3 separate regions of the Homo sapiens genome follow, and all the other regions are linked to region 3. Evidence: fine-mapped expression QTL. A gene starts in region 3. Each other region holds a variant in brackets. All regions are shown on one strand. Distances are from middle to middle.

Region 1 (8,184 bases), 64 kb before region 3:
GGAAAAGCTAAGACTGGAACGCATTCTACTGAAAATATAAAAAAGTTAGGCTTGGAATAAGAGGTAATGCTACCTTTAAAGGAGATTTTAGGCCAGGCATGGTGGCTCATGTTTGTAATGCCAGCACTTTGGGAGGCCAAGGTGGGCAGATAGCTTGAGCCCAGAAGGTGGAGACCAGACTGGGCAACATAGTAAGACCCCGTCTCCACCAAAAAATAGAAAAATTACCCAGGTGTGGTGGTGCACGCATGTAGTCCCAGCTACTTGGGAGGCTGAGGTGCAAGGATCACTTGAGCCCAGGGAGGTTGAGGCTACACTGAGCCATGACTGCGCCACTGCACTCCAGTCTGGGCAACAGAATGAGATCCTGTCTCGAAAAGAAGAAAAAGGAGATGATAATAATAATAATAATAATAATAATAATAATAATAATAATGTGTTAATTCTGAAAAACTGATAATTCATGTAGACCTCTTTCAAAGAGGAAAGAGTTAAATAAAAATAAATCTTGAGATACCTCTTACCCAATGATACTCTCAAAGGCTGAAGTCAAAATATGTTTTCTGCATTTTCTTCCATGATTGCTGAATGGTTTTGTGTTTTAGAAATGCATGCTCTGAGAAAGGTTACTTAGAAAGTTTTAAAGATTCGACCCTATGTGAACGGTCGAGAAGTGACTCACCAATCTTTTCTCTCTACAATCTAATCCGCTTGATAAAAATAAAAGTGAATCGTAAACATGTTTTATAAAACCTGTTCCATGTTTTAACCATAAAATGTTCCATGGAATATAAAACATAAAAATGTTCCATGTTTTAACTGCAGAAATATTCGCAGGAGCTGCAACCCTTATGAACTTGTCTTAAATCACTTTTTGTACTTGGATCTTTTGCAAATTGCAAAAGGCACATTGCCGGCTGCAACTTCGGACGAACCACACATTCCATTTCAAGATGGCTGTTTAATCTTTCTCAGACTTGACAATGCTCAGGCAATTGTCACCATGACGTTCATTCACCTCGGACTGCCACTTTCCTGTGGCTGCCATCACTTCTACATGTGGTATTTTTGATTGACACCGTGCCAGGTGGAGCTGAGTCCCTGCTTTCATTCTTGTCCAGGGATTTTGTGACAAAAAGCTGAATGTGATTCAGAAAGAAATAACATGTTGTATATCTAAAACACCTGGTTGTCTTTAAAGGGCACTGTTGCTTCTGCAGGTTCCTTCAGTATTTGTAAGGAGAAAACATGAAATACAGGTTTTGCTTTCTATGGAAACGTGCAGGAAGTAAAAAAGCTTCCACTTCTTGAGCGTTCACTGAATAGATAAGGAAATGTGAATGATTCACAGTGGACCTTATTTCCTAAAGCATGTTGAACATATTTAAACAACAAAAAGATGAACAATGAAGAAATACATACCATTTGGATAAGTCCTTCTGTAACAGGTGGTTGTTATCTTAATTTTTATGAATGTAGAGTCTACGAGTTGGAGGACATACGTTATGTTCTTGTCCACAGAATTTGTACTTTACCATAGTATTTGGTAAGAAAATACCCAATACTTATATGGTTGTCCTAACGTTTAGGTAATTTTGTTTTAAATGCCATTTACTGAATGCTCTAGTCATACCTATAGTCTAAGGAAAAGGTTGGCACACTATGATTGGTATACCTAGTGCAGCTCACTGCTGTTTTGTATATACAGTTTTATTGGAACATAGCCAACCTCATTTGCTAATAATTTGTCTATGCCTGTTTTCAACTACAATGGTAGAGCTGAATAGTTGCATCAGAGAAAGTAAGGCCCACAGGCTGGGCGCAGTGGCTCACACCTGTAATGCCAGCACTTCGGGAGGCTGAGGCGGGTGGATCACAAGGTCAGGAGATCGAGGCTGTCCTTGCTAACATGGTGAAACCCCATCTCTACTAAAAATACAAAAAAAAGAAAAAAATAGCCAGGCATGGTGGCACGCGCCTGTAGTCCCAGCTACTTGGGAGGCTGAGGCAGGAGAATCACTTAAACCCGGGAGGCGGAGGTTGCAGTGAGCCAAGATCGCGCCACTGCACTCCAGCCTGGGCGACAGAGCGAGACTATGTTTAAAAAAAAAAAAAAAAAGAAAGAAAGGAAAAAGAAAGTAAGGCCCACAAAGCCTAAAATATTTACTCCGTGATTTTTTTTTTTTTTTTTTTTTTGAGATGAAGTCTCGCTCTGTCGCCCAGGCTGAAGTGCAGTGGCGTGATCTTGGCTCAATGCAACCTCTGCCTCCTGGGTTCAAGCAATTCTCCTGCCTCAGCCTCCTGAGTAGCTAGGATTACAGGTGCCCGCCACCGCGCCCAGCTAATTTTTTTGTATTCTTAGTAGAGACGGGGTTACACCATGTTGGCCAGGCTGGTCTCAAACTCCTGACCTCGTGATCCGCTCACCTCAGCCTCCCAAAGTGCTGGGATTACACGCGTGAGCCACTGCACCCAACTACTCTCTGATCTTTTACAGAAAAAGTTTGCTAACCCCTGACCTAAGTTATTAAAATTTTAGGACTGAAAATATGTATATTGTCTCTGTATTTGTATGATTACATAAATGCATATGTGTATACCTATATGTAGCTACATATGCATATATACCTATGTATGGTATACATACACATATGCAAATATATAAATATGTGTATAAGCATATAGATACATGAGTATATGTGTGTTTACACGTATATATGTGCATGTATATGTACATGTGCGTATGTGTGTGCACATGCACCAGATTAATTGAATTCTAAGCAGGACATCGCTAGGGAATGGTATCTTTAATTACACCTGAAAAAAAATCGAGGTCCGCAGCCCCTTTCCTGAACATACTGACTGGCCCTCCTCCATTTAAGTGGTAAATGATGCCTGGTCAATATACAGGAATTATGTTCTTTGCCTCCTCCACTTATGGGTCCATCTCTGGAGAAAGCATTTCTCCACGGATGTTTATAGCCAAGAACTTGAGTCAGTATTTCCTTGCTGCTGGTCCAGCATGCTGGGGAACAACAAAAGCAGCAATGCTGGGGAACTTCGGGGCAGCAGGCTCAGTGCTGGATTCCTTGGTGAGAACCTTCTACTTTTCCACAGAGATACTCCAGGCCCCACCAAGAGCAGAAAGAAAAGCCAGCACGGGAAGAAAAAAAAAAGGAAAAAGCAGTACAGAAAGAAAATAGAGGCTGGCTGTATGTAAAACATGAACAATGTAGCCTAACATTGTTAATTAATTTTAGTTTGGGAAAAAGAAGTGCTGCATTAACTGTAGATTAAAATACAGATATAAAACCCCTCAAGCCAGATATTCATGAGTTCACTTATTCATTTAATAAATGACTAATTGAGCACTTACTATGTGTCAGGGACAGGGCTGGGCTCAGGAGATACAACAGTGCACAGGATACACTCCCTGCCCTTACAGACCTGACAGTACAGTCGGGGAGGAAGATGGGTGAACTCTTACATTGGAGTGCATTGTGTGAGTTTTCGCGAGTGGTCAGCATGGAGTGCTACAGAGCTAACATGAAGGATGCCCAAACTTCCTGACACCTTCATTGGTCAGGAAAGGGTTCCTGGAGGAAGCAACCTCTAATGGAGAGTGAAGTGAAAGTAAGAGTTGTCCAGGTGAAAAGACACCAGTAAGAACCTTCTAGGCAAGAGTGCCAATGTGTGCATAGGACTAGACTTGAGAGAGACCATGGTATTGGGGATATGCAAATGGCCCTGGGTGGCTGGGGCCATGAAGGCAAAAGATGAAGGGTGGCAAGGAATTGGGCAAGGCATACTTGAAGCTAAAAATCTCAGTCAGCTGGCTGACCTTCTCTCACCACCACCTGATACTGATGGGCTCAGAGAGGTCCCCAAACATGGTTGAGACCTCGACTCCAGCTGGTGTCCAGGCTCTTGACACTGTTGCAAGAAGGAATTCAAGGATGAGTCAGGGCTGGGCGCGGTAGCTCATGCCTGTAATCCCAGCACTTTGGGAGGCTGAGGCAGGTGGATCAGGAGGCCAGGAGATCAAGACCATCCAGGCTAACACAGTGAAACCCTGTCTCTACTAAAAATACAAAAAAATTAGCCAGGCGTGGTGGTGGGCGCCTGTAGTCCCAGCTACTTGGGAGGCTGAGGCAGGAGAATGGCGTGAACCCGGGAGGTGGAGCTTGCAGTGAGCCGAGATCATGCCACTGTGCTCCAACCTGGGGAACAGAGCGAGACTCTGTCTCAAAAAAAAAAAAAAAGGATGAGTCAGAAAATAGTGAAAGTACAGAGATTTGTTGCAGAGGGAAAATTACACACTCAAGAGAAGGGAATGTGGTTGTAGACAAGAGTCATGCACAAGGGGGTTTGGGGTTGCTACCTTCATGGGTTTCTTTAACCAAAGCAAGGGGTGGAATATTCACGAAAATTCCTGGGAAAAGGTGGAGATTTCTCAGAATTGTCATGCCGCCCACTTTTCCAGCAAGTATAGATGTTCTTGGAACTGTCATGGCACTGGCAGGTGTGTGATTTGTATGTTAATGAGCATATAATAAGGTCCTAGGTGAAACCTAAGTAGGATCCAGCTCCATGTTGGGTCCAGTCAGTCTCAGTCAGCTTGGTCCACACCTGGTTTTTCAGGGTCTTATCAGCCCATAGCCTCTAGTTATGTGAAACTGCTGCCTGGAATTTTTATTCTCCTGTAACCACCCTGTAAGTTTCCTGTCTCACATCCAAATCAACATCCCCAAGATTCCCTATCAGCCTTCATTTGATCTCCCAGATCAATTAGGA[G/A]GAAGGAACACTCTGATTCAGTGCTATGTGGAGTCACCCTGGAGCCTGAGGCAAAAGGAATATGCATCCCTATAGTGTACATTCACCCAAAAATGTTCCTATAGTTTGTGGAAGAAGTCAATACAAGCTCTACAATAAAAAAAAAAAAATGACTGCATATAAAGTTCCACATTGTCCAATCTGTTCCCGTGCCATTGTCAACTCTCATTGACAAGGTCTGTCCTGGCCAACCTTGGGCCGATTGGAATTCCTGTTCCACAATAACCCAGGGTCATAAAACAAATAACAGCAGCCTGTCTTCACCTAATTTTTTGATATTTTGTTTATTGTAGATTTTTTTTGCCCATAGTCTATAGATGAGAAATATATAGGATCCAGGTGGTAAAAAATCATGTGAAAAATGGTAAGCAGTTTGCATTTTGTATAGGGGCAATGGAGAGACGTTGAAAGGCTTTGAACATGGAAACAAAGGAATCAGATTTTCTGGGTTAGAAATATCATTCTAGTTGCAGATTTGAGGGTAGATTTGGGATGCTAGATTTTTTGATAGAAACATCTGTATTTATAGTCACCAAAAATATCCCTTGGGGGATTGCTATTAACTTTATAAAAATGGTTTGCAATATAAAATCCTTGTAAATGAGAAATACATTTGTAAATATGTACTGATTTGTACATATGTCTGATGGTAAATTTGATTATTCACAACTTTTCAAAAACACACTCCTGTGTTTTTGCAAGTGATCATTTTGTTGAGATTCTCAAAGAATTACTTGAGCAAGCTGATGAACACATCATGGAGTATAAATTGCAGAGGAGACCGTTTTCTATCCAAAACACAAGAAAACAAACAGATTGAGGAAGTTAAGGGGAAAAGGAGAAAAAGAGGGGCTTGGCAGTTTAAGAGTGTGGGCTAATTTACATCTGAAAATCCTCTCTCATGCTGTTCTCTGCACCTGGAATACCCTCCCCACCGCCTATTCAATTTCAAGGCCCAAATCAAGCTCTATTCCTAAGACTTTTTTGATTGCTCCAGTGCATCCAATCTCCTTTTCCCCTTTAGTTAGTGGCCCTGAAACCTAAGTGTGAGAATCACCCAAAGGACTTACCGAAGCAAAGTTTTGGTTTCAGTAGGTCTGGAGTGGGGACTGAGGATGTATTTCCAACAAGTTCCCAGATGATGCTGATGCTGCTCACGGGCCACACTTCGGGAATCACTGCTTTAAACCAGTGCGTGTTTCTCAGACTTTAATGTGCATACAGATCACCTGGGGGTCTTGCAAAGGATGCTACACTGAGCTCTATATCAATGGTTTTCAACAAAGGATGACTTTACTCCCAGGGAACATTTGGACATGTTGGACATTTTTGGTTGTTATATACTGTGGCAGTAGGAAGTGAGGAGTGCTTTTGCTTGTTACTGGCATCTAGTGGGTAGGGGCCAGAGATGCTTCAAAACATCCTACAATGCCAAGGACAGCCTCCCACAATCAAGAATTATCTAACCCAAAATACCACTGTTGGGAAACCTTGATTTAAACCATACAATTTAGATACCATCACCATTTGCTATTGCTCATGGAGGCTGTAAGGACTGCAGTTTCCTAAAAGCAAGCACTATGTCTAATATAGAAATTCTGAGGCTCTTCCTCTTTCTGGGCCAAATACTACCTTCCCACCCCACCTCCCCTCCAAATGCCTAACGCAGTGTTTACTACATAGTGAGCATACAGGAAAAGGTTTTTTAAATTAACTACCTAGGAACACTCAAACTAGTGGTTCTCAGGCTTAACTGTATATTAGAATCACCTGGGGAGTTTTTTAAAACACAAATGCCTGCATCCCACCAACAGAGATTCTGATTTCATTGTTGTGTGCTATGGCCTGCATGTTGGGAGTTTTAAAAGCTCTGCAGGTGAGCCCAATGAGCAGACAAGGTTGAAAATCATTGGACTCCATCCTCGCTAGTTAGTAATTCACATTTGAAACTGTGAGATTGAGAAGGAACACTTGTAGCCGCTTCAGCGTATGTATGATTGCCCCTAAGGAAAACCCATTCCAAAACAAGTTAGACCCATAAAATGTCATTAATTTCCAAGTAGTTGTTCTGTACCGCCTGTGAGTTGTCCATTATGCTATGTGCTAGGAATACAAAATTGAAAAGTTTAAGGGCTCTGCCTTCTAGGGACCTCCTAGTGCAATGGAGAAGTTAACTATGAACAATACAGTAAGTGCTATAATAGAAGCCTGTATAAAGTGCCTGAGTCACGCAGAGGAAGTATCACACTAAAGGAAGTGGCTTACTTTTCCCAAGGGCTCAGAAGAATTGGGGAAGGGGTTCTTAGAGAAGCCTCTCACCTGGGTGTTGAAAGTAAACAGTGTTGATTGGAAATGTCAAGTACATCAGCGTGGTTGGACACAGTTGGACTAGCTGGTGTTAAAGGAAGCAGAAACAGTGGTGGGAGGGAAGGGAAAGGGGCAGCACAGGGCTTGAGGGCATAAGGCCATTCATGAAGAGCTGCATGCTCAGGGGTCAGGACTGTATAGACGAGAGGCAGCCAGCGATGGTTAAACAGAGAAGTGATCTGAGGAGGTGAGCTCACTGTGATCCCCACCTCCTCTGCACACTTGAGGGCTGTAATTAAAAGATGCATTCATCAACTCCTGTTGTGCAATAACCCAGGGTCATAAATCAAATAACAGCAGGCTGTCTTTTTCTAATTTTTTTGATCTTTTGTTTATCGTAGATTTTCTGCCCATAGTTCATAGATGAGACCTGAAAAATATGTAGGATCCAGGTGGTGAAAGACCACATGAAAAATGATAAGTAGTTTGCACTTTGTCTAGGGACAATAAGGAAACATTGAAAGACTTTAAGCATGGAAATAAAGGAATTTTATTTTCTAGGTTAAAAATATCACTCTAGGCCAGGCGTGGTGGCTCACGCCTATAATCCCAGCACTTTGGGAGGCCGAGGCAGGTGGATCACGAGGTCAGGAGATCAAGACCATCCTGGCTAACACGGTGAAACCTCGTCTCTACTAAAAATACAAAAAATTAGCCGGGTGTGGTGGTGGGCGCCTGTAGTCCCAGCTCCTAGGGAGGCTGAGGCAGGAGAATGGCATGAACCCGGGAGGCGGAGCTTGCAGTGAGCTGAGATCACGCCACTGCACTCCAGCCTGGGGCGACAGAGCGAGATTCCATCTCAAAAAAAAAAAAAAAAAAATCACTCTAGTTGCAGATTTGAGAGTAGATTTGGGATGTTAGATCTTCATAGAAACATCTGTATTTATACAGATATAAAATATCCCTTGGGGAATTGCTATGAACTTTATTAAAATGGTTCACAATATAAAGAATGACTTGAGAACATATAAGAGGTACCTTGTA
Region 2 (8,184 bases), 120 kb after region 3:
ACCACCCAGGTGGTGCAATCATAGCTCACTACAGCCTTGAACTCCTGCCATTTCCCTCTTTTACTCATATCAAGGGACTTGAAGGCTAACTATCAAACCATAGGTTTACCCCTTACCAAAACCACATATTCCAAGACTTAAATGGGTGATCACAACTTAAATTGTCCTTCCTCTCGGGCATGTTTGCATTATAACAATGCTTCAATAGGGATGAAATGCTAAAGATGACCTTGGTGTATATCCACCTCTGGAAATGGTAGCTTTGGAGGGGGTTGATGGCAAGTGGCACTTCAGGGACAGTCACCTTGTTCCTTTTGTACTGGAGGCTAGTCCCTGTGTAGCTGCCCACTTGTGGATTGAGGCTTATTTCCTCCCCTTTTGGCTGCTCACCCTCAAGTGAGTAGAGGCCAAAAGGCAAGCCAGAGAGAGGTTTTCAAAAGCCAAAGCCCAGGCTCTAACTATTTAGGTCTAGTAAAGAGCTAGTTACTGTTACTGCTTTTGTTCTTGCTGTAATAACCTATACTGCATATCTTTGTTTCCTTTAAGAGTGTTAAAACTTTAAGAGTGTTAAGCCACAGAGCTGGGCACTGTGGCTCACGCCTGTAATCCCAGCACTTTGGGAGGCCGAGGCGGGCGCATCACCTGAGGTCGGGAGTTTGAGACCAGCCTGACCAACATGGAGAAACCCCATCTCTACTAAAAATACAAAAAATTAGCTGGGCATGGTGGAGCATGCCTGTAATCCCAGCTACTTGGGAGGCTGAGGCAGGAGAATCGCTTGAACCCGGGAGGCAGAGGTTGCAGTGAGCCGAGATTGCACCATTGCACTCCAGCCTGGGCAACAAGAGCAACACTCCATCTCAAAAAAAAAAAAAAACAGTGTTAAACTGGCTGGGCGCGGTGGCTCACGCCTGTAATCCCAGAACTTTGGGAGGCTGAGGAGGGCAGATCATCTGAGGTCAGGAGTTCAAGACCAGCCTGGCCAACATAGTGAAACCCCATCCGTACTAAAAATACAAAAATTAGCCGGGTGTGGTGGCAGGCACCTATAATCCCAGCTACTCAGGAGGCTAAGGTGGGCGTATGGCTTGAACCCAGGAGGCGGAGTTTGCAGTGAGCTGAGATGGTGCCACTGTACTCCAGCCTGGGTTACCAAGAGAGACTCTCTCAAAAAAAAAAAAAAAAAAAAAAAGAGTGTTAAACCATATGTCCACACAAAAAAACCTTGTACACAGATGTTCATAGCAGCATTATTCATAATAACCAAAAAGTAGAAACAATCTGAAGGTTCATCAACTGGTGAATAAATAAAATGTGGTCTAGCCATATAATGGAATATTTTTTGGCCATAAAAAGAAATGCAATCCTAATACATCCTTCAACCTAGATGAGCCTTGAAGATACTATGCCAAATGAAAGAGCAAGACATAGGAGGCTACATATTGTGTGAATTCATTTATATGAAATGTCCAAAGTAGGCAAATCCATAGTAATGGAGAGTAGATTAGTGGTTGCCAGCGACTGGAGAGAAAGGGTCTTGGGAATGACTACTAATGGGTACAGGATTTCTTTTTGGGGTAATGAAAATATTCTGAAATCAGATGATGGGGATGATTTGTGAATATACTAAAAACCATTGAATTATACATGCTGTAGTCTAAATATTATGGTATATAAATTATATTTTCAATTTTTTTAAATGGAATTGTCCTATAAAACTGAGAAAACAGGGGCCGTGTGCAGTGGCTCACGCCTGTAATCCCAGCACTCTGGGAGGCCGAGGCGGACGGATCACAAGGTCAGGAGTTTGAGATCAGCCTGGCCAACGTGGTGAAACCCTGTCTCTACTAAAAATACAAAAATTAGCTGGGCATCATAGCATCCGCCTGTAATCCCAGCTACTAGGGAGGCTGAGGCAGGAGAATCGCTTGAACCCGGGAGGCGGAGGTTGCAGTGAGCCAAGTTTGTGCCATTGCACTCCAGCCTGGGCAATAAGAGTGAAACTCCATCTCCAAAAATAAATAAATAAATAAAAATAGAAAATAAAAGTAATTCAGACAAATAGCAAGAAATGCACAATATAGCCCAACAAAATCAAAAGTTAGTCCTCTCTTTCCACCCTCAATTCTCTTCAAGAGTAATTAAGTTTCCTATGAACCAATATGACATATAGTGATTCTTATTCATTTGAATTAATGTTAAGTACTACACATTTTATCAACCATTTAGGAAGAAATTAGCTTGGTAAAAATAAGACAATTGGCCGGGTGCAGTAGCTCACGCCTGTAATCCCAACACTTTGGGAGGCCGAGGTGGGCGGATCACAAGGTCAGGAATTCAAGACCAGCCTGGCCAATATGGTAAAATCCTGTCTCCACTAAAAAAAAAAAAAAAAAAAATTAGCTGGGCGTGGTGGTGGGCACCTGTAATCGAGGTAGGAGAATCTCTTGAACCCGGGAGATGGAGGTTACAGTGAGCCGAGATCACACCACTGCACTCCAGCCTGGGCCACAGAGCGAGATTCTGTCTCAAAAAAAAAAAAGATAATGTACTTTTATGCAGAGATTTTTTAAACAGAGCATTCATTTGCCATGTATCAAACTCAGCAAATCTCAAACTGACATTACCACCCTCCTCACTGGAATGTACTGCCTCCTCCTGTCTTCCTTATTTCTGACTGAATACCTTTTTTTCAATCAACTTCCCTACTGAAATCTAAGCCATCATTTCCATTCCAGTTCAAACATTTTTGTGAAACTTACCCTGGCACTCCGTAAGATGTCTCTTCTCCAAGTGACTGACTTACCTTGTAGATTTCTTATGGGACCTAATACATTTCTTCTCTTCAGTTCCTTCTAAACAGTCTTAGCATTTCTACTACATCTAAGGGCTCCTTAAAAGCCAGAATCATAACTCTCTCCCAATTTTATTTAATAAATTGATCCCTTATATTCTCCTAGAGTCATGGACTCTAGGAGAATATTTCAAATCTTGGAATGACACATGAGACAAGGGGCAGGAGCTTGCAGGCCTTTATGATGGGACATAAAGAAAGGGATTAACACCTTAAAAGAAAAAGTTAATGATCTGGGATCAAAAACAGCTCTGAGAAATTTTGCCTTCCTCGTTACTTGGTTTAAAAAATTACCTTTAGGTGGCCAATAAAAGCCCACGGTCATTATGTTACTCAATAAATTGATCCCTTATGTTCTCCTAGAGTCATAGTAGATCTAGGAGAACATAAGGGATCAATTTATTGAATAAACGACTCTTTTAATTAATATGAATTTCAATGGCTTTTTTTTTCTTGCTCTGAAGGTAGTGCAAAATGTGTAGGTTATATGCTATAGTTTATCTCAGAGAGTAAGAATGAGGTATACCTCTTAAACTACGAACAAACCAAAATGCCTTCATGAGGTCCCTCCTTCTCTTTCAGGCCTTGCTCTATTACTGTGAAGCACTAACAAAGACAAACCTCCAGCTCCAGAAAGCAGCTTGCCTGGCTCTGAAAATCCTTGAGGTAAAGCCCAGCCTTGGAGCTCCCCTGGCAGCTCAGCTTGGAGCCAGGCTAAGCTGAGTGTATATAACAGCTTTTCTTTCATGTTTGAAAGTACTTTTTTAGCAGTATTTCTTGTCTTCTTTGCACCGTATGTTAGTTTTAGTATTTTTCTCCCTTAAACAGTAATTACATGTGACTTTGTTTTGTTAAAGTCAATAAGTGGCAGAAAGCAATCATGTTTTGCACTAGCCCAAGGGAACCAGTTTGCCTTTAGGTCAGTATTAGAAAAGTACATCTTATTAGCCGGCACAGTGGCTCATGCCTGTAATCCCAGCATTTTGGGAGGCCGAGGCCGGTGGATCACCTGAGGTCAGGAGTTTGAGATCAACCTGGCCAACATGGTGAAACCTCATCTCTACAAAAATACAAAAACTAGCTGGGCATGATGGCAGGTGCCTGTAATCCCAGCTACTCAGGAGGCTGAGGAGGGAGAATTGCTTGAACCCAGGAAGTTGCAGTGAGCCAAGATTGTGCCATTGTACTCCAGCCTGGGTGGCAGAGCCAGACTCTGTCTCAAAAAAAAAGAGAGAGAGAGAGAAAAGGAAAGTATATCTTATTTTAAAAGGGAGATGAGATGTATGGTGATTTCACTCATTTTTATTGTGAACAACAAAAAGCAAGGACAAATAAGATTTGAAAAGAAGTACTAAATTCAGTATGCCACTGAATTCCCAGATCCTTCCCCGCAAGCTCTCTTTATTAAGCAGAGAACCAGTTTTGATTGTCATAAGGAGGTGTCGTGAGCAGGGAGAGAGCTAGAATGTAAACAA[G/A]TACTAAACGGAACAATAATACCACCGAGGAGGAGCCAAGATGGCCGAATAGGAACAGCTCCGGTCTACAGCTCCCAGCGTGAGCGACGCAGAAGACGGGTGATTTCTGCATTTCCATCTGAGGTACCGGGTTCATCTCACTAGGGAGTGCCAGACAGTGGGCGCAGGCCAGTGTGTGTGCGCACCGTGTGCGAGCCGAAGCAGGGCGAGGCATTGCCTCACCTGGGAAGCGCAAGGGGTCAGGGAGTTCCCTTTCCGAGTCAAAGAAAGGGGTGACGGACGCACCTGGAAAATCGGGTCACTCCCACCCGAATATTGCGCTTTTCAGACCGGCTTAAGAAACGGCGCACCACGAGACTATATCCCACACCTGGCTCAGAGGGTCCTACGCCCACGGAATCTCGCTGATTGCTAGCACAGCAGTCTGAGATCAAACTGCAAGGCGGCAACGAGGCTGGGGGAGGGGCGCCCGCCATTGCCCAGGCTTGCTTAGGTAAACAAAGCAGCCGGGAAGCTCGAACTGGGTGGAGCCCACCACAGCTCAAGGAGGCCTGCCTGCCTCTGTAGGCTCCACCTCTGGGGGCAGGGCACAGACAAACAAAAAGACAGCAGTAACCTCTGCAGACTTAAGTGTCCCTGTCTGACAGCTTTGAAGAGAGCAGTGGTTCTCCCAGCACGCAGCTGGAGATCTGAGAACGGGCAGACTGCCTCCTCAAGTGGGTCCCTGACCCCTGACCCCCGAGCAGCCTAACTGGGAGGCACCCCCCAGCAGGGGCACACTGACACCTCACACGGCAGGGTATTCCAACAGACCTGCAGCTGAGAGTCCTGTCTGTTAGAAGGAAAACTAACAACCAGAAAGGACATCTACACCGAAAACCCATCTGTACATCACCATCATCAAAGACCAAAAGTAGATAAAACCACAAAGATGGGGAAAAAACAGAACAGAAAAACTGGAAACTCTAAAACGCAGAGCGCCTCTCCTCCTCCAAAGGAACGCAGTTCCTCACCAGCAACAGAACAAAGCTGGATGGAGAATGATTTTGACGAGCTGAGAGAAGAAGGCTTCAGACGATCAAATTACTCTGAGCTACGGGAGGACATTCAAACCAAAGGCAAAGAAGTTGAAAACTTTGAAAAAAATTTAGAAGAATGTATAACTAGAATAACCAATACAGAGAAGTGCTTAAAGGAGCTGATGGAGCTGAAAACCAAGGCTCGAGAACTACGTGAAGAATGCAGAAGCCTCAGGAGCCGATGCGATCAACTGGAAGAAAGGGTATCAGCAATGGAAGATGAAATGAATGAAATGAAGCGAGAAGGGAAGTTTAGAGAAAAAAGAATAAAAAGAAATGAGCAAAGCCTCCAAGAAATATGGGACTATGTGAAAAGACCAAATCTACGTCTGATTGGTGTACCTGAAAGTGATGTGGAGAATGGAACCAAGTTGGAAAACACTCTGCAGGATATTATCCAGGAGAACTTCCCCAATCTAGCAAGGCAGGCCAACGTTCAGATTCAGGAAATACAGAGAACGCCACAAAGATACTCCTCGAGAAGAGCAACTCCAAGACACATAATTGTCAGATTCACCAAAGTTGAAATGAAGGAAAAAATGTTAAGGGCAGCCAGAGAGAAAGGTCGGGTTACCCTCAAAGGAAAGCCCATCAGACTAACAGCGGATCTCTCGGCAGAAACCCTACAAGCCAGAAGAGAGTGGGGGCCAATATTCAACATTCTTAAAGAAAAGAATTTTCAACCCAGAATTTCATATCCAGCCAAACTAAGCTTCATAAGTGAAGGAGAAATAAAATACTTTATAGACAAGCAAATGCTGAGAGATTTTGTCACCACCAGGCCTGCCCTAAAAGAGCTCCTGAAGGAAGCGCTAAACATGGAAAGGAACAACCGGTACCAGCCGCTGCAAAATCATGCCAAAATGTAAAGACCATCGAGACTAGGAAGAAACTGCATCAACTAATGAGCAAAATCACCAGCTAACATCATAATGACAGGATCAAATTCACACATAACAATATTAACTTTAAATATAAACGGACTAAATTCTGCAATTAAAAGACACAGACTGGCAAGTTGGATAAAGAGTCAAGACCCATCAGTGTCCTGTATTCAGGAAACCCATCTCACGTGCAGAGACACACATAGGCTCAAAATAAAAGGATGGAGGAAGATCTACCAAGCCAATGGAAAACAAAAAAAGGCAGGGGTTGCAATCCTAGTCTCTGATAAAACAGACTTTAAACCAACAAAGATCAAAAGAGACAAAGAAGGCCATTACATAATGGTAAAGGGATCAATTCAACAAGAGGAGCTAACTATCCTAAATATTTATGCACCCAATACAGGAGCACCCAGATTCATAAAGCAAGTCCTCAGTGACCTACAAAGAGACTTAGACTCCCACACATTAATAATGGGAGACTTTAACACCCCACTGTCAACATTAGACAGATCAACGAGACAGAAAGTCAACAAGGATACCCAGGAATTGAACTCAGCTCTGCACCAAGCAGACCTAATAGACATCTACAGAACTCTCCACCCCAAATCAACAGAATATACATTTTTTTCAGCACCACACCACACCTATTCCAAAATTGACCACATAGTTGGAAGTAAAGCTCTCCTCAGCAAATGTAAAAGAACAGAAATTATAACAAACTATCTCTCAGACCACAGTGCAATCAAACTAGAACTCAGGATTAAGAATCTCACTCAAAGCCGCTCAACTACATGGAAACTGAACAACCTGCTCCTGAATGACTACTGGGTACATAACGAAATGAAGGCAGAAATAAAGATGTTCTTTGAAACCAACGAGAACAAAGACACCACATACCAGAATCTCTGGGACGCATTCAAAGCAGTGTGTAGAGGGAAATTTATAGCACTAAATGCCTACAAGAGAAAGCAGGAAAGATCCAAAATTGACACCCTAACATCACAATTAAAAGAACTAGAAAAGCAAGAGCAAACACATTCAAAAGCTAGCAGAAGGCAAGAAATAACTAAAATCAGAGCAGAACTGAAGGAAATAGAGACACAAAAAACCCTTCAAAAAATCAATGAATCCAGGAGCTGGTTTTTTGAAAGGATCAACAAAATTGATAGACCGCTAGCAAGACTAATAAAGAAAAAAAGAGAGAAGAATCAAATAGACACAATAAAAAATGATAAAGGGGATATCACCACCGATCCCACAGAAATACAAACTACCATCAGAGAATACTACAAACACCTCTACGCAAATAAACTAGAAAATCTAGAAGAAATGGATACATTCCTCGACACATACACTCTCCCAAGACTAAACCAGGAAGAAGTTGAATCTCTGAATAGACCAATAACAGGCTCTGAAATTGTGGCAATAATCAATAGTTTACCAACCAAAAAGAGTCCAGGACCAGATGGATTCACAGCCGAATTCTACCAGAGGTACAAGGAGGAACTGGTACCATTCCTTCTGAAACTATTCCAATCAATAGAAAAAGAGGGAATCCTCCCTAACTCATTTTATGAGGCCAGCATCATTCTGATACCAAAGCCGGGCAGAGACACAACCAAAAAAGAGAATTTTAGACCAATATCCTTGATGAACATTGATGCAAAAATCCTCAATAAAATACTGGCAAACCGAATTCAGCAGCACATCAAAAAGCTTGTCCACCATGATCAAGTGGGCTTCATCCCTGGGATGCAAGGCTGGTTCAATATACGCAAATCAATAAATGTAATCCAGCATATAAACAGAGCCAAAGACAAAAACCACATGATTATCTCAATAGATGCAGAAAAAGCCTTTGACAAAATTCAACAACCCTTCATGCTAAA
Region 3 (8,184 bases):
TTAGGAGCCCACTCCCCTACTCTGCCTCCTTTGTCTAGTCACTTCTTCACAGTTTATTGCACTTTGTTAAAATTTTATATAAGCTCAGCATTCTTTTAGACTTTACATAGATAAGAGATAGTGTAGCCTGGTGTTTAAGAGTTTGGACTCTGGGATCAAATCTCAGTACCTCTACCACTTACCAAATGTATGACCTTGGGTGGATCACTTCACCTCTTGGGCCTTAAACTAAAATAGAGATAATAAATATATCTATATCTTAGGGTTGATATAGGAATTAAGTGAATCAAAGCACTTAAAACTGTTGCTGGCACTCTGTGTTAGCGATTACCTACATTTTTTTATTTGCTCATTTTGGACACTCATATAAATATAATTATACCATTTATAATTTTCTGAGACCTTTCAAAGTCAATATTATGTTTTTGAAACTCATCCATATTGATGCATGCATATGTAGTTTATTAATTTTTCTTTTTAGTTAACACATCATGCATGTATGTCATATCTCTCTAAGGTAATTGTAAACTTTGGAGAGCAAGAACCATGTTTTCTATCCTCTGTGCTTTCAAGGAGTTCGTGGTAGCATTTGTGATTTGTTCTTTGAGATGATTAGCTGTGTTTCTGAGATATCTAAATTGGAGAAGAGGAGACTGAGGGAAACTTCCTAAGGGTTATTGAGGTTTTATATGGAGTGTGGTGACTTCTCATTCTCTATCCCCATTGAGCCTTCAATTTGGGAAATATCCTAAGCGTCCCTGTGAGAGACTTAGGCGTATAATTATAACTGGGTATTTACTGTGTACCATGTACTGTGTCAGCTTCTTTACATAAATTATCCTACTTAATCCTCAAAACAAGCCAAATGAGAAAGTATATTATTTTCTAGGACTTCTGTAATGAAGTACCACAAACTGGGTGGCTTAAGCAACAGAAACTTACTGCATCACAGCTGTGGAGGCTAGAAGTCCAAGGTCAAGGTGTTGGCAGGATTGGTTCTTCTGAGGGATGTGAGGGAGAATCTCTTGCAGGCCTCTCCCCTAGCTCATGGTGGTTTACTGGCAGTCTTTGGTGTTCCTTGGCTTGTGGATCTCTGCCTTCATCTTCACATACTATCCTCCCTATGTCTATGTCTTTGTCTAAATCTCTCCTTTTTATGAGGAAGTTAGTCATATTGGATTAAGGACCCATCCTCCTCCAATATGATATAAGTTCATCCTAACTAATTATATCTTCAATGGCCCTGTTTCTAAGTAAGGTCACATTCTGAGGTACTGGGGGTTAGGACTTCAACATATGAATTCAACAGGGGAGACACAATTCCACCCACTTAAAATGAAACAGGCCTACAGAGGTTATGCTAACTTTTTGAAGTGGAATAGCTAGGGCCCTCAGGTTCACGTGGTAACCAGGTAGTTCTGAGGTGGGAGGTGAGGGAGGTAGTGCAGGTCCCCAAGAGCCACGGGGATGCTGCAGTGAACTGGACTGTGTGCAGTCACTCCCATAAGTTGTCCAGACATGAGGTAACAGAGTGAGCTCTGGAATTAGTCAAATCTGCCACTCACTAGCTGCCTGATCTTAGGAATGTTTTTCAAGCCCTCAGAGCCCCCATTGCTTCATCTGTAAAATGGGATAATAGCACCCACCTCATGAAGTTGTGGAGATTAAAGGACATAGGACAGTAGTTGAGAAATGTAGTGATTATCAAAATGGACACCCATCCTCTTATCCCAACCACACAAAAGAGAGCTTTAGTCCACATCCAAATTTCCTACACCTAGGCCCATTTTAATTAATTTAATTTATGTAACTAAGTGCAACCCTTGTCCAGAAACATCATTCAAGTGGGGATCATGGTAGGGGGTGGTAAAAGGGTCAGAAAGGGGAGATGCAAAGGAGAGCTAGAGAAAAGGATAACTCCAGTTCTCTGCCTGTCAGTGTGTCTCAAGGTGGGCATTATTGGTATTTGGAGCTGGACAGTTCTTCCTGTTGAGCTACTGTTCCATGCATTATGGTAAGGTTGATATCCCTGGGCCCCTGAGTGCTAAGACATTAAATACCAGTAATAACCCCCAGTCATTGTGCCACCCAAAACACCCCAGACATTTCCAAGCTCTCCTCTAAGGATGGTTCCAGCCCTGATTGACAACAATTGGTGATCCCAGCAGGACCCAAGCTGTACACTGTCTTTGGGAACTGCTGCAGCCACCAATGCAGGGATGAACTGACTGTTGCTGCTCAGTTAACCCTCAGTGTCTGATTCCTGAATTCCTCTGGGGTGATCCCTTCTCACTGCTGGATTTCTCCAACCCTGTTGTCCACAGTCTCTTCTGGGAGAAAATGGTGCAATTTCAAGGTTGCAGTTACAGGAGGAGGGGACAGTTTCTCTAGGGTAACACTGGGAGTATCTTCAAAACCATGCAGTAAATAAAGTGCCAAAAATAAACACCTTGGGTCAACAGCTCCTCACTGTCATCTCCATTTGCATTTTCTAAGCTTCTGGCCACCTAAGAGATCTTACAACACAGTGGAGTGCTCTGGGAAACCCCGAAATGAAGTCTCAGTATTACTCAGAGAGATGTGTGTTTGTTTGTGCAGCCAGACAGAATTTGGCACACGTTGGGTAGCTCGATATGGTGATGCCAGCCAATGGTGCTCGCGTAGAAGCTCAGTGTTCACTCATCCCTTTGGGAGGACTGCTTTTTGAGTTACATTTTCTTCTTTCTCCTTTAGTGATACAGTCTGAAGTATCAAACTGAGTAAATATTGTGAAATGCAAGATGTTTGACCAAAACCAGTTATCTATTCATTGACTATAGATTTAATCGAGCCACATAAAGCCTAGATATGGTTCAGTTTGGTTTAAATGCTGTAAAGTTTCCAATCCTTAAATGCAAGAGGTTTGAAAAAAAGAAAAGAAAAGAAAAGAAAAATGCAACTATTACTGAGCAAAATAAAAGCTCTGTCCTCTAAATGCCTGCTTTGGTTTAACATAGTGGCTTGCTTTACTTTCAGATAAATTGTAATTGAAGCAAAACCAAGATATGAGAAATATGAACTCCCTCTTTCAACAAAACCCATTGTGTTCAAATTCATAAGCAAGAAAGTTAAGCACCCACCTTCCTCTTTAAGGAAATATGAAAGTTGTTGCTTTGAAATAGAATTCATTGCATTCAGACTTTGAGTGATATCTGTATTCATATCCAACCGGATCTGCAGCCCTCTTCAAAAAATTCTTTCTCCTCAGTGGTGAGAATTACCCCACCTGGGATTCACTCTTCACAAGGCTCAAGAAGCCTATTCATATGAATGAAACTGCTTTCTTCAGGGCAGATGCGGAAGCTGCCCTCCAGAGGGCTTGGGCAACCCAAGGAAAGGAAATCACCTCGGTCGGCAGTGTGACTGCTGAGACTGCCGGGGCTGCTGCCTGCTGCTTCTCGCGCCTGTCCTCTCCAAGATGCAGTTTTTTGATGCTGAGGAGCTCCTGGTCGATGAAGAGGATGATGTTTTTGGTGAAGGTAAATGCATCTTTCTGGCAGGAGGCTCTCCGGTCTGCTTTGCTTTGTTTTGACACCACTGGACACTTTTGCCCAGCTTGGGCAAGGACTTGAGTATTTTGAAATGATAAAAACAAAGCATCCTGAGTGAGGTAGTGGCTGCAAATATCAACTTAGGCACTGAAGGAATACACAAGGCAAGGGGTGGAACAAGGGGTTGAGTCATTCCCGCAAATACATTTTTTAAAGTCATGACTAAAATAAAGGTTTAGTTTAGGCTGGAAAATAGTACTAAATTTTTTGCCTTGTCTCTCTTCTGTGCTATCTCTTGTCTAACACCTTAAGGAAAGCCTGTCACAGTGGTTTGAGCACAGCAGGGCTGCTAGGGAAGAAGTTAAATAAATGGACCAGGAGTGGTTTTTCATGGTACCATGTTGCTTTGATTTGCACTTCTCTCTTTCTGTCTCTCTCTCTCTCTGTCTCTCTCTCTCTGTCTATCTTTCTCTCGGTCCTTCTCTTTTTTTTTTTTTTTTTTTTTGTTGTTGTTTTTTGAGACAGAGTCTTGCTTTGTTGCTCAGGCTGGAGTGCAGTGGTGCAATCTCAGCTCACTGCAACCTCCGTCTCCCGGGTTCAAGTCATTCTCCTGCCTCAGCCTCCCAAGTAGCTGGGACTACAGGCGCCCACCACCATGCCCAGCTAATTTTTGTATTTTTAGTAGAGATGGGATTTTGCCATGTTGGCCAGGCTGGTCTTGAAATCCTGACTTCAGGTGATCCACCCTCCTTGGCCCCCCAAAGTGCTGGGATTACAGGCGTGAGCTACCATGCCCGGCCTGGGTCCTTCTCTCTTACTCTTCCTCACACATACTTGGCACTCCAACCCTCCATTCCCTTTTCCAATTTTCTTTTTTCCCAAGTCGGGATACTGGAGCCCTGGTAGCTTCCAATCCCCATTGGCACTGCTCAGTTTTCTGTTCTCATCTTGCAGCTTTTCCATGACTTGACCTATCCACTGGAATTTAACTGTAAAGGTTGCGATTTTAAAGGGATGATCTAGTCATTGGATGGATGTTTTGTTCAAATGCTGCCTATGAGATTGGGCTATAGGCAAAAGCTTTTTTAGAATTTGGAGCCACCTAAATAAAGGAAATTTGGACTCAAGAATCTCGTGAATTTGATTATTTTCCGCAAGAAACTACGTCTAGCAATTTTTTAAAAAACTCTATTCAGTAATTTTTTAAAAGGAACAGTAGTAAGGTTTTTGTGTATGTGTAATTACCCAAGCAATACAAGTTCGCTGAAGAAAAATTAGAGTGTCGCAAAGAACCCCTTGTAATCTAGTCATGTAGAATGTAATCATGGTTAATATTTTGATGTTGTCTTTCTGCTATGTTGTTCTAGCTACAGAAATATTTAAAATCATTAGTTGGGTTTTTATCACAACTTAAATCAATTTGAAGAATATCTATTGAGCTTCGCTGCTGTTTACCAAGTTATCATTCTGTTGTGTTACTTTGATGGCAGGCGTTTAGGCCACCAACACCTTGAAGTTTGATCTTAGGCCCCATTCTTCAGCTTTCACTTCTTAAAGATGTTTCCTCTTTAAGCAAACACCTTAAAGAGAAAATTTATACTTAGATACTAACTCTTTTGAGGACCTGAAAAATGCTCACAACTATGAAGATAAGCTTAGAACGGAAAAATTGGCAATCATTCACCCACACCTCCCTCCAGGAATGGCATTCCAAAACGCCCAGCCCACATTTCTTTGCCTATAGGAATTTTGCTCTTTTACATCTGGCTATGATACTTAAGAGCGCCCTCTATAGGCTGATGCACTGCACTCTGGATTATGCGTGGCCCCATCCTGAAGGGAAGCGTTAAGACCAAGCAGGGCTGGATGAACCTGTGTGTTCTCTCTCCTGAGCATTCATCATTTCCAAGGTGATTATTGTAACCTCACTAACCATGTTGTAGTGGAATGGCTGAGGTCCCCAGGTTCCAGGTAGCTAGGTAACCAGCTAGCTCTGAGGTGGGAAGTGAGGGAGGTAGTGCAGGTTGATAAGTTGGGAGTCAAACGAGATTCAGACTCAGATTCTGGTTCTGCTTCGTGGTACCCATACAAGCTAACTTTGGTCTCCTCAATGGTGAAGTGGGACAGTAATACCTATCGGTTGTACAGATTATCTTCATAGTAGATGCATAATGTTTGCGTTGCACTTCAATGTGGTATGCTTTATCTTTTCCAAACTGATTATCTCATTTAACTTAATCCCTAAAGATTAAAGAGAAAATCCTTGCAAGGCCAACATCCAGTGTATTTTTATTCAGTTTTCAGAGCCGTGGCTCATGTTTGGCAATTTATGTGAAAGCATGTCCAGCTGCTGCCTCATTTTAAGCAAGCTCTGTGTGGGGTAACAGTCAAAAGCTTCAGCTCTGGAATTGCACGGTCTAGGCTTTGCCAACCAATTCACTTATGACCTTAAGCAGGTTACCTAATCTCTCTGTGCCTCAGTTTACTCACTTATAAAATGGAGTCCAAACCTCATATGGCTGTGTGTGGCTTAAGTGTTATGATAGGGAAAGCTTTTAGAATAGTGGTCAGTACTTAATACATATGAATCCCTATTGTCTATTTACAAAAATGGGTTTATAGAATAGTGACCATTTTTTCACGTCTGGTTAACCTCAGATTCAAAATAGGACTTATTTACAGAACTTCAGTTTATAAATAACTTTTCAGAGGTTTAACGTGGCAGATATAGCACTGAACAAGTTGTTAGGAGTCTGAGTTGTAGCCTTGCCCCTGCTGTGGTATAGCTGGAGGATCTTGGGCAAGTCATTTATCTTCTTTGAGCCTCATTCTTCTTCTGAAACAAGGGGACTGATTACACATTCTCTGAGCATTCTACTACCCAGTCTCCAGTCTTTACTTCAAAATGATGTATCTACCTGTAAAAGTTCATGCTTGTTCTAGGATTCACGCATACTTTCAGCTCACTTAACATGCCTAAGCAGAAAGCTTTTGGCACAATGAGTTTTCCGTAACATAAAAAAAGGAAAATGCCCAGAAGCTTGTTATTAGGGCAACTATATTTCCTTGCAATTGACACATTTTTAAGATCCCTTTCTCCTAGAGGTTACACAGATTTAGAATTTAGGTGCATTTGCTTAAAAGTATATATAAATCCATTTAGATATATGGACACTATAAAGATCTGGGAAGAAAAAAAATGAGTCAATGAGTCATCCTCACAATGTATTTTTTAAACTGCCTTTCTGAGATCCTGTTTGCTTCAGCAATTGTTTTTTGTGGTTAAAGGAAATGTTAAGGTTCACAGAACTTCGGAGCATTGGTGTGTAACTGCTCTTGTTCTAAAACAGGTTGCATATAGTGAGAGAGAAAGAGAAAGAGAGACAGAAAGAAAAGGGATTCACCTACACACTGCAAATCCCAATGTCTGTTCTCTCTCTGTCTCTCCATCTGTTTCTTCTCTCTCTTTTTCTCTCTCTCATACACACACACACACACACACACACACACAGTCTTAAGTTTGCTTTCCTAACAACATCATCACGTCATTTAGAAAATGGTTACTCTCAAGTAGGCTTAATCTTTCCTGGAGAAATGATTCATTTGATTATCAAGGTAGTGAAAAACCAGTAGTTAGCCTTACAGACTCTTTTCCCATTGTTCTTTCAAACTTATCAAATTAAAGGGCTTTCATCTGTTTTGTCACTGTGTGATCTTGACAGCCAGTCTGGTCAGTGTTAGTGGAAATAACTGGATGGGTAATAATGGTAATGACTACAACAATGCTGCTGCTGCTGATGATGATGATGACAATGATGATGACAATTGAAAAAAGGAAAAAAGAAGGGCCATGCACAGTGTAGGTTCCTATCCTGCTTTCAAGAACAGAACAGAATTCACGTGTGGGAGCAAACGGCTCACCAGGTGGTGGTCAGTGAGTATTTTAGCAGCCAAAATTACTCCTTGGCACAAGTTAAAGCTGCAATTGCTTCTTTCCTTAGAAACGCAACCCGCCCCGCCTCCATTTTCAGCACTGCTCAGTAATCTTTTGTCAGGTGCAATGATTAGAATAATAAAACACCCCAAGTTCACAGTAAGTGTGCAAAGTATTTCTCAGGTTCTTGTATTTCCTGGACACTTACATGCCTTTTAAGATTATGCTTGAAGATCACAAGAAACTACAAAGCATTTGTCAGATTTTCAAATGTCCCCCAGAGCTGGTAGAGTGCAACTGAGCATGAGAATACTTCTGTCCTGGATAACTGTGTCTGAGAAAGTTGTTTCAACCTCCACAAAGGAGGGGAACTCTCCCAGATGGAGATGAACTGGCAAAAGGAAGTCCATTCAACCATTAGCTGCCTGTTGCTCTTAAGGAGACTAACAGCTGGTTGGAAAAAAATTGGCAGTCACTTTTGAACCAAGCCTCTCTCCTTTCTCCAAGCCAAGTAAGTTAGCACTTTTTCCTTTTCAAAGGGAACTTCAGGTCAGAGGGAGCAAGAAGACTACAAAACACTTAACACACACACACACACAAAAAGAATTGTAATTAGGATAAATACCTATTTTTTTTGTCTTTCCATGTAGGCTGTTTACAAAACCAAGGTAGTATTTTTCTTTTAATAGGTAAATAATTATGCAATCTGGTATAATCTGG

The links. PIP is the estimated chance that this variant, and not a neighbour inherited with it, causes the effect.
Region 1: its variant is fine-mapped to the expression of RIPOR2 in whole blood (INTERVAL, PIP above 0.99).
Region 2: its variant is fine-mapped to the expression of RIPOR2 in whole blood (TOPMed, PIP above 0.99).

What each region holds. Positions count from the first base shown.
Region 1 is chr6:24,995,637-25,003,820 of GRCh38, reverse strand. It overlaps a transcript of RIPOR2 not described here. Among named protein-coding and RNA genes, the nearest start is that of RIPOR2, 64 kb to the right of the region's middle. The variant G/A (reference allele first, on the strand shown) is at 4,795.
Region 2 is chr6:24,813,878-24,822,061 of GRCh38, reverse strand. RIPOR2 (RHO family interacting cell polarization regulator 2) reads left to right here. Exons shown (of 22, transcript NM_001286445.3): 20 at 3,437-3,520. Among named protein-coding and RNA genes, the nearest start is that of ARMH2, 19 kb to the right of the region's middle. RefSeq lists a silencer at 1,020-1,148. The variant G/A (reference allele first, on the strand shown) is at 4,330.
Region 3 is chr6:24,931,172-24,939,355 of GRCh38, reverse strand. It overlaps RIPOR2 (RHO family interacting cell polarization regulator 2), which reads left to right and starts at 3,396. Exons shown (of 22, transcript NM_001286445.3): 1 at 3,396-3,518. The coding sequence starts at 3,458. LOC105374981 (a long non-coding RNA gene) reads right to left here and starts at 5,381. Exons shown (of 3, transcript XR_007059514.1): 1 at 5,292-5,381; 2 at 4,986-5,110. RefSeq lists an enhancer at 2,514-2,683.